2 linked regions of the Homo sapiens genome follow. The protein of the gene in region 1 interacts with the protein of each later gene in a biochemical or structural test. Each region holds a gene or a part of one and is shown on either strand. Other genes may lie near its edges.

What was found.
Region 2: the proteins of RAB40B (region 1) and CUL5 form a complex in vitro, tested with the Homo sapiens proteins (one study listed by BioGRID).

Annotation. Positions count from the first base shown.
Region 1 is NC_000017.11:82,660,607-82,664,422, reverse strand, and holds part of RAB40B (ras-related protein Rab-40B), read left to right. Parts: intron 1-1,679; coding exon of another isoform or gene 1,680-1,989; exon of another isoform or gene 1,990-3,352; coding exon of another isoform or gene 3,353-3,375; coding exon 3,376-3,436; intron 3,437-3,816. UniProt on the Homo sapiens protein: RAB40B small GTPase acts as substrate-recognition components of the ECS(RAB40B) E3 ubiquitin ligase complex which mediates the ubiquitination of target proteins.
Region 2 is NC_000011.10:108,067,803-108,071,618, forward strand, and holds part of CUL5 (cullin-5), read left to right. Parts: intron 1-2,293; coding exon 2,294-2,387; intron 2,388-3,816. UniProt on the Homo sapiens protein: Core component of multiple cullin-5-RING E3 ubiquitin-protein ligase complexes (ECS complexes, also named CRL5 complexes), which mediate the ubiquitination and subsequent proteasomal degradation of target proteins.

The sequences.
Region 1 (3,816 bases):
CAGCACAGTGCCCCGGGGAGCACCCATCCCCCACCACCATCGGCACAGCGCCCCCGGGAACACCCTCCCACCACCACCGTCGGCACAGCACCCCGGGGAGCACCACCAGCCCCACCACCATCAGCACAGCACCCCGGGGAGCACCCTCCCCCCACCACCATCGGCCCAGCACCCCAGGGAGCAAGCTCCCCCCACCACCATCTGCCCAGCACCCCAGGGAGCACCCTTCCCCCACCACCGTCGGCACAGCGCCCCCGGGGAACACCCTCCCACCACCACCATCGGCACAGCACCCCAGGGAGCACCCTCCCCCCACCAACATCGGCACAGCACCCCGGGGAGCACCCTCCCCCCACCACCGTCGGCACAGCACCCCCGGGAACACCCTTCCCCCACCACCGTTGGCACAGCGCCCCCGGGAACACCCTCCCACCACCACCGTCGGCACAGCGCCCCGGGGAGCACCCCCAGCCCCAGCTGCACCAGGGCTTCTCTGAAGGAGGTGGTGGTCCGGTTGTCTGGGCCCCCGTCATCCAGAGTAGGGGACCCCAGAACGGACATAGCGCTGTGGCTGGGAATCGGCTTTTGGGATCAGAACCTGTGGCCTGGTGTCTGTGGGAAGATGCCAAGAGGGGACCGATGCAGCGTGGTTGAGGCAGCCCGGGGCTCCTGGGTCCCCCACGCCTGGCTCAGTGATGCCACTGAGCACCCGGCAGGGAGCTCGGAGCGTCCTGGTGCCAGCGGGGCTGTGGTCGGGCCTGCGGGTGGAGGACCCAGACGTGGGGAGGTGAGGACTTGCTGGCCAGCCTGGGGCTGCTGGCTCTGCTCTCTCAGCTGTGAGAACCCCAGCTCCTCACCTTGGGGCAAGCCCGGGGCACCTCTCCCTCCCCCAGCACCCCCACCTTGGGGCCAGCTTGGAACACCTCTCCCTCCACCCGCTCTTGGCTTGGGATGGGGGGAGCTCCTGCGGTTCCAGCTCTGGGGCGGTGGGGATGGGGGGCTCCTGCGGTGCCTCATCCTGGGGCTGCCTCCCTCTTGGGCATCCCTCCTGCACTGCTGCCACTCCTGGGTGACCCTCGCCTGAGCCTCCTGGCCCTTCCTGCCTGCTGGGCCACCCCCGAGCCACGTGTGCCTCCAGCAGCTGGGACCCCCTTCTCTTACCTGTCCCCTTCCTACGCCTGCCCCGTCTAGTAGTGGCCAGTCCTGGGGAGCCTGTCTCCACAGTGTCCCCAAGCGCCCCGACCCTTCCTGCTGCACAGCTTCAGGCCTCCCGCCCAGTCTGCTCTCAGGTCCCCACTCCCCCGGGGCCATGCCCTCGCTGGGCTGGCGTTGGGGTTGCCGTCAGCCCCTGTCCTGCTCCCCACCCTCCGCCAGCTGGGCCTTTGCTGCCTCCTCCTGGCCCTGAGCCCTGCAGGTCCAGGACCTTGTTCTCAAGTCTCTCCCTCCCTCCCCGAGACCACTCCTTCCTGAGGGGCCAAGGCCACCCAAAGGCCGCACTCGGCCCCACGCCTGCCCCTGAGCTCAGTGCCTTCCTAAAGATCTGCTTGCATCAGGGCTGGCGCGTGCCCTCTCCCAGCTCCACCCCGGGTCTGGCTGCTCACCTTAGCGAACGCCTCCCTGACCCCAGCTGCCCAGTGGGCCGAACAGTCACCCTCACACTTTTCTCCCTCTCACCTCAGGAGTGAGATCCCAGGGGGCTTCTGCCAAGCTCAGAATCCCCCCAGGCCCCAGCAGGACCCTGAGGCTGCTCTCCTGTGGTGCCGGTGCCAGCTCTGTCCACACTGTCGTCTGAGCAAGGTCACACTCCCACCGTGGACCCCGGAGTGTGGACCCCAGAGTGTGGTCCTTCCTGGTGCCCACAACTGGGTCTTCTGCCTGCCCCCACCTGCCCTCACCTCCCTCCCCACACCCACTGGGGCTGGGGTTGGGCTCTGCTCTGCTCCTTCAGGGTGGCAGCGGCCCAGGAGGCCGGCACGTTGTCCCAGCTGAGGAGGGAGTGCTCCCACTTCACGATGGGGCACTCTGACAGCACGTGCTGGCCCTTCGGCCTCCCTGCGAAGCTGGCAGATTGACCTGGCCCGCTGCCTCCTCGACCATAGCTTTTGGGCAGCTCCCGCTGTGTGCAAAGCCTGAGCACCTGAGGTCCTGCTGAGGCTTGAATTCTAGATCAATTTGCTTCTCAGGAAATGAGGCACTCACTCCTAGGCTTTGGCAATGGCCAGTGTCGCTGGTCCCCTCTGGAGCCCCAGGCCCTTCTCTCTCGTGCTGAGGGTGGTCACCGACCACAGGTGCATGTGACACAAACAGCAAAACCATGCCGCGTCCCACCGCTCATCCGTGAGGTTGTGTCTCGTGTGCGGGGCCAGCCCCTGGCCCACTGGGGAATCTCCCATTGATGTAGGTGTGTTCGTTGCATGTGCAGACTCCGGGAAACAGCGCTGGCTGTCCCAGGGCCGCCTCCTCTGGGAACTGATCCCTGGGGAGCACCCTTTCCACCCTCATTTGTTTCTTCCTTTTTTTTTTTTTTTTTTTTTCTGAGACAGAGTCTCACTCTGTCTCCCAGGCTGGAGTGCAGTGGCACGATATCAGCTCACTGCAACCTCCGCCTGCCGGGCTCAAACAATTCTCCTGCCTCAGCCTTCCGAGTAGCTGGGACTACAGGAGCACACCACCATGTCCAGCTAATTTTTGTATTTTTAGTAGAGACGGGGTTTCACTATGTTGGCCAGGCTGGTCTCCAACTCCTGACCTCGGGTGATCCGCCTGCCTCGGTCTCCCAAAGCGCTGGGATTATCGGTGTGAGCCGCCAAGCCCGGCCTTTCATTTGTTTCTTGGAGCTCCGTTCTGGTCTTTGTGGGTCCCAGTACCTGCTGCGTGTGCCGTCATCTGAGAACTCAAGCCCTGCCTGCAGCTCACGCCAGGCAGTTCCCTGTATCCCTCCCCTCTTAGGGGCACACTGGAAGGGCTGACTCCATGTGAGCTCTTACAGTTGAACTGGAAGAGCAGGGATCCCACCGGCCTCTCTCCCCTGGTGTAGACCCACACTCCTTACTGCATAGATTTATCTTCAGATTCAACAAGTTTTTTAAAGCCTACATTGAATGTATTTAAATATCTGAGAATTATGTTAAAACCGTCACTATTTTTTCTAGTTTGACTTTTTAAATGACAGAGAAGAGCATGAGCCTGGGAGGACATCCCAACACCCGGATCCCTTCAGGGACATTGGAAAGTTTTGTTGGGGTCTCACGCTGGCGGCGTGGTGGCTGCTGACTGGCGGGTGTGTGGTGCACTTGCTGTGGCTCTGAAGTTCCAGAACCTGTTGTCAGGAAGAAGCACTGGTTTCTTCTTAATGGTCTCCAACATCTTTTCCAGGGATACTTCAGGCCAGGGAAGATTTTGTACCATATTCCGCTCCTACTCCCGGGGCGCACAGGTAACACAGCATCCCCCGAGCTGGGAGATCAAACCAACTTTGAATAATAACATTTACAATGCTTAACTTACCATCCTTTAATGGATGATTGGAGGACAAGGCGGTTAAGCTTACGTATAAATTGGTGCTGAGAGTCTAAAAACGTGCTGTAGAGTGGTTGGTTGTTTGAAAGACTTCATCAGTATTACGGATGTAAGCGTGCATTTACGGGACTGTGTGTGCATGTACACGTGTGTGCAGGTACGTGCACTGTGTATGCGTGCATCTGTGCATGAGTGCCTGTGTGTGTGTGTGTGTGTACATGTGTGTGCAGGTACGTGCACTGTGCATACGTCTGCATGAGTGCCTGTGCGTGTGTGTGTGCACGTGTGTGCAGGTAT
Region 2 (3,816 bases), on another chromosome or scaffold:
TTTAGTTGGGCCTATTCCAGTGATGTTATAGAATAAGATTACTCAGCAGTTGGGGCAGAGATTTCCACCTTGCAAGGAAAGAGTTTCTTAACCATTTTATATGTGTAGTCTTTTCTTTATTTTTCTTTTTTTTTTCCTTTTTTGAGACGGAGTTTTGCTCTTGTTGCCCAGGCTGGAGTGCAATGGCACGATCTCGGCTCACTGCAATCTCTGCCTCCCAGGTTTAAGCAATTCTCCTGCCTCAGCCTCCCGAGTAGCTGGGATTACAGGCACCCACCATGCCCGGCTAATTTTTAGTAGAGATGGGGTTTCTCTGTGTTGGTCAGGCTGGTCTTGAACTCCTGACCTCAGGTGATCCGCCCGCCTTAGCCTCCCAAAGTGCTGGGATTATAGGCTATGAGCCACCACGCCCAGCCATGTGTATTATTTTCTTAGGACAGAAATATACATGGATATATGCATTTAAAAGTCATCAGCATCATTCTTGTAGAGGAGCCTGAAAAAACCTTTTTTTTTGTTTTGTTTTGTTTTGTTTTGTGACAGTCTTGCTCTGTCGCCCAGACTACACTGCAGTGACATGATCAAGGCTTACTGCAGCCTTGACCTCCTGAGCTTAACTGACCCTCCCACCTCAGCCCCCCAACTCGCAGGGACCACAGAAAATTCTTTATTCGGAAAATTTTAAGCATTTTTACAATGTAGGAAGAACAGTATAATGAATCCCCATTACCTAAATTCAGCTTTAGTAGTTACCAACATTATGTCAATTCCAAAGGAATTTTTAATAAAAAATTTTTAAGGGACACATAATTGCCTCCCTTAATTTACAGATAGATGATTTGTTTTTCAGAAGAAATATATCAGCCTTATTGTACTTAACTTTAGTCCTCACAACCTATTAATTTCATCTGATCCCCAAAAGAGAAGTAAATAATTACATGACACGAGGGAGCAGAGATGACATGATATCTTCTGCCTCATTTAGATTTTCCTGATGGCCTCCTAGAGCACTAGACCCTTGCTATCTTACCTGAAATAGTTCAACAGCCTCGTTACCATATCCCAACCACCCACTCCTTACCACCTGCCTTACTACCATTATACTGATCTTTAATAATGACTTGAGGAGAGGAGAATCTCATTACATTTATCCTCTGTTTAAAACTTCCTTGGGGCCAGGCCTGATGGTTCACACCTGTAATCCCACACTTTGGGAGACTGACAGGGGGATCATGTGAGACCAGGAGTTTGTGACCAGCCTGGGGAACATAGCAAGACATCATCTCTACAGAAAAGTTTAAAAAATTAACCAGACTTGATAGTACATCCCTGTAGTCCTAGCTACTCAAGAGGCTGAGGCAGGAGGATCACTTGAGCCTAGGAGTTCAAGGCTGTAGTGAGGTATGATAGTAGCTATGTAGTAATGCCACTGTACTCCAGCTTGGGCAGCAGAGCAAGACTCTGTCTCTTAAACAAACAAAAAAACCTTCCTTTGTTCTTCCTTCCCTACCTATGAAATAAAACCCCAAATCATAGATTTTCATTCATAATCTGGTTGCAGCCTATCTTTCTAGCCTTCTCTTCCACTGTCTGTTTCTTCTCTACCATTTTAAGCTTCCTGGTATTCCTAGAATACGTAACCTATTTTAGGGCTTGTACTTACTTTACAGGATCCCATTTAGATACCAACTTGTGGATGAGGCCATTTTAACTACCCTAGAAAAAAGTAGTTTCTAAGTTTTTTTTTATTTTGTGTGTGTTTGTGTATGTGTGTGATGCCACTTAACTGAGTTATATTTAGTTAGCAGTGTAGGTTTACTGCCCTCCTCACTCTCAATTAGACAGTGATCTCTTCGAGAGCAGGAATTATATCTTATTCTTGTCTCTTAAATACTTCCTTAGTGCCTGCACGTAGTAGGCATCCAATAATGGTTTGTTGAATGAATGTATTCACACTTCTAGAATTTTATAACCTAATTTTAAAACAGGTTCTCTCCAGACAGGAAGAGTTAATCAAAGTTTGGTTTTGTATATTTTTCTCTCCCCTCCTTGAGGACTTTTGTTAAAATTTCTAAAGAGAGTCTAGTTCTATAGTTTTTTTCCTTAGGGGAAAATACACTTTGGTAAACTAGTATAGCATATCCATCTTCAATAATCCTATAGTTAAGGTAAGTGAAATCTACTTTCAGTATAATTTTTTTTTTGTTGAACAATATTGTTTTATTTTGTGAGTTAGAATAGATTTGTGCTATACAGCTTATAGTAGCCTTGACTAATTTTTGATATATTTCAGCTCATGGAATGCTGTGTAAATGCCCTGGTGACATCATTTAAAGAGACTATCTTAGCTGAGTGCCAAGGCATGATCAAGAGAAATGAAACTGAAAGTAGGTAAAACATCACATAAAGTTATCATAATCTTCTAAGAGGGTATCTTTGAAACAAATCACTTACTAAGTTGCTCTTAGTTAATTCTTTTCCACATAGGTATATGTGGAACTGTTAGAGTGAACTATACTTAAGGAAATAGATAAAATATTTAACACAGAGGCACTGCTAAGAGTATATAAACTTAAATTTTAAGCATTTTCCCTCTTAGCTATCAACATCTGTGTATGTGTATGGTGAATTTCTACTTTTTTCTCAAAAGCAAGACACTGCTTTTAAAGGCCAGTTTAAACTGGAAACATATGTTATAGATTAGAACCAGGTATTTGACTTTTGTGTGGAACCTTGTGATGAATCTTTTTAGAATGTAATAAAACACTCCCTGTTAATAGTCATCTCTGTCCCCCAAAATACTTTATAAGATTTCTAAAGGATTTTTTTATTACTTCAATGTTTTCTTAAAAAGATGTGTTTTGAGAGGTAGCAAGTATATAACAAACTAAAAAAAAAAATTGTACATATACCTACTACCCCAGTAAAACTGCTTTTAACATTTTTTTGCTTTTGTTTTTTAAATAACGTACTTCTACTGAGTTTCCAGGTTTTATTATATCTAACTGCAAGGTCCTGTTTAATCTCTAGTTGCATTTAAAGTGCATATTTCAATTCACTTAAGTTCATACACTTTTTAGGAGTAATTCAGTAGTAAAAAGCAAGCTGCTTTATTGGCGTAAACAAAATACTTGTATTCTGTGTGCCAGTCTAATTAGAGTTATGTCTGATCTATGTTGCACTCTTTTCAAAAGGATTTATTTAGTGGTAATCAGTACCGTGAGGTAGGGTTTTTGTGAAGGTCAATAAAATGGCATAACATGAAAAAGTGCTTTGTAAATTGAAAAATTATTTATGAATACAGTTTTATATTCTAATCTCTAATATAGTTGCTTTCGTAATTATTACTCATGTTTTTTACCTTTTGATGATATGGCTGTATATGTAGTATTACAACTACCTTATGAAATAAACTAATCTTGTGTGTAAATAAATATTCCTTTGCACTGAAAACCAAATGACTCACCTTTTCTTTTGAGACTGGGTCTCGCTGTGTTGCCCAACCTGGAATTCGATGGCACGATCACAATTCACTGTAGCCTTGACCTCCTGGGCTCAAGCGATCCTCCCACCTCCCAGCCCACTGAGTAGCTGGGACTACAGCCGTGTACCACCATGCCTGGCTAATTTTTGTATTTTTTGTAGAGGCAGAGCCCCACCTTGTTGCCCAGGCTGATCTCCACTGCTTCTGGCCAAATGACTGACCTTTTAAAGAAAGGAGTTGGGTTTTGCAGTATTTGATCACTTTTTTTATTTTTATTTTTTGAGACCGTCTTGCCCTGTCACCCAGGCTGAGTGCAATGGTGCAATCACGGC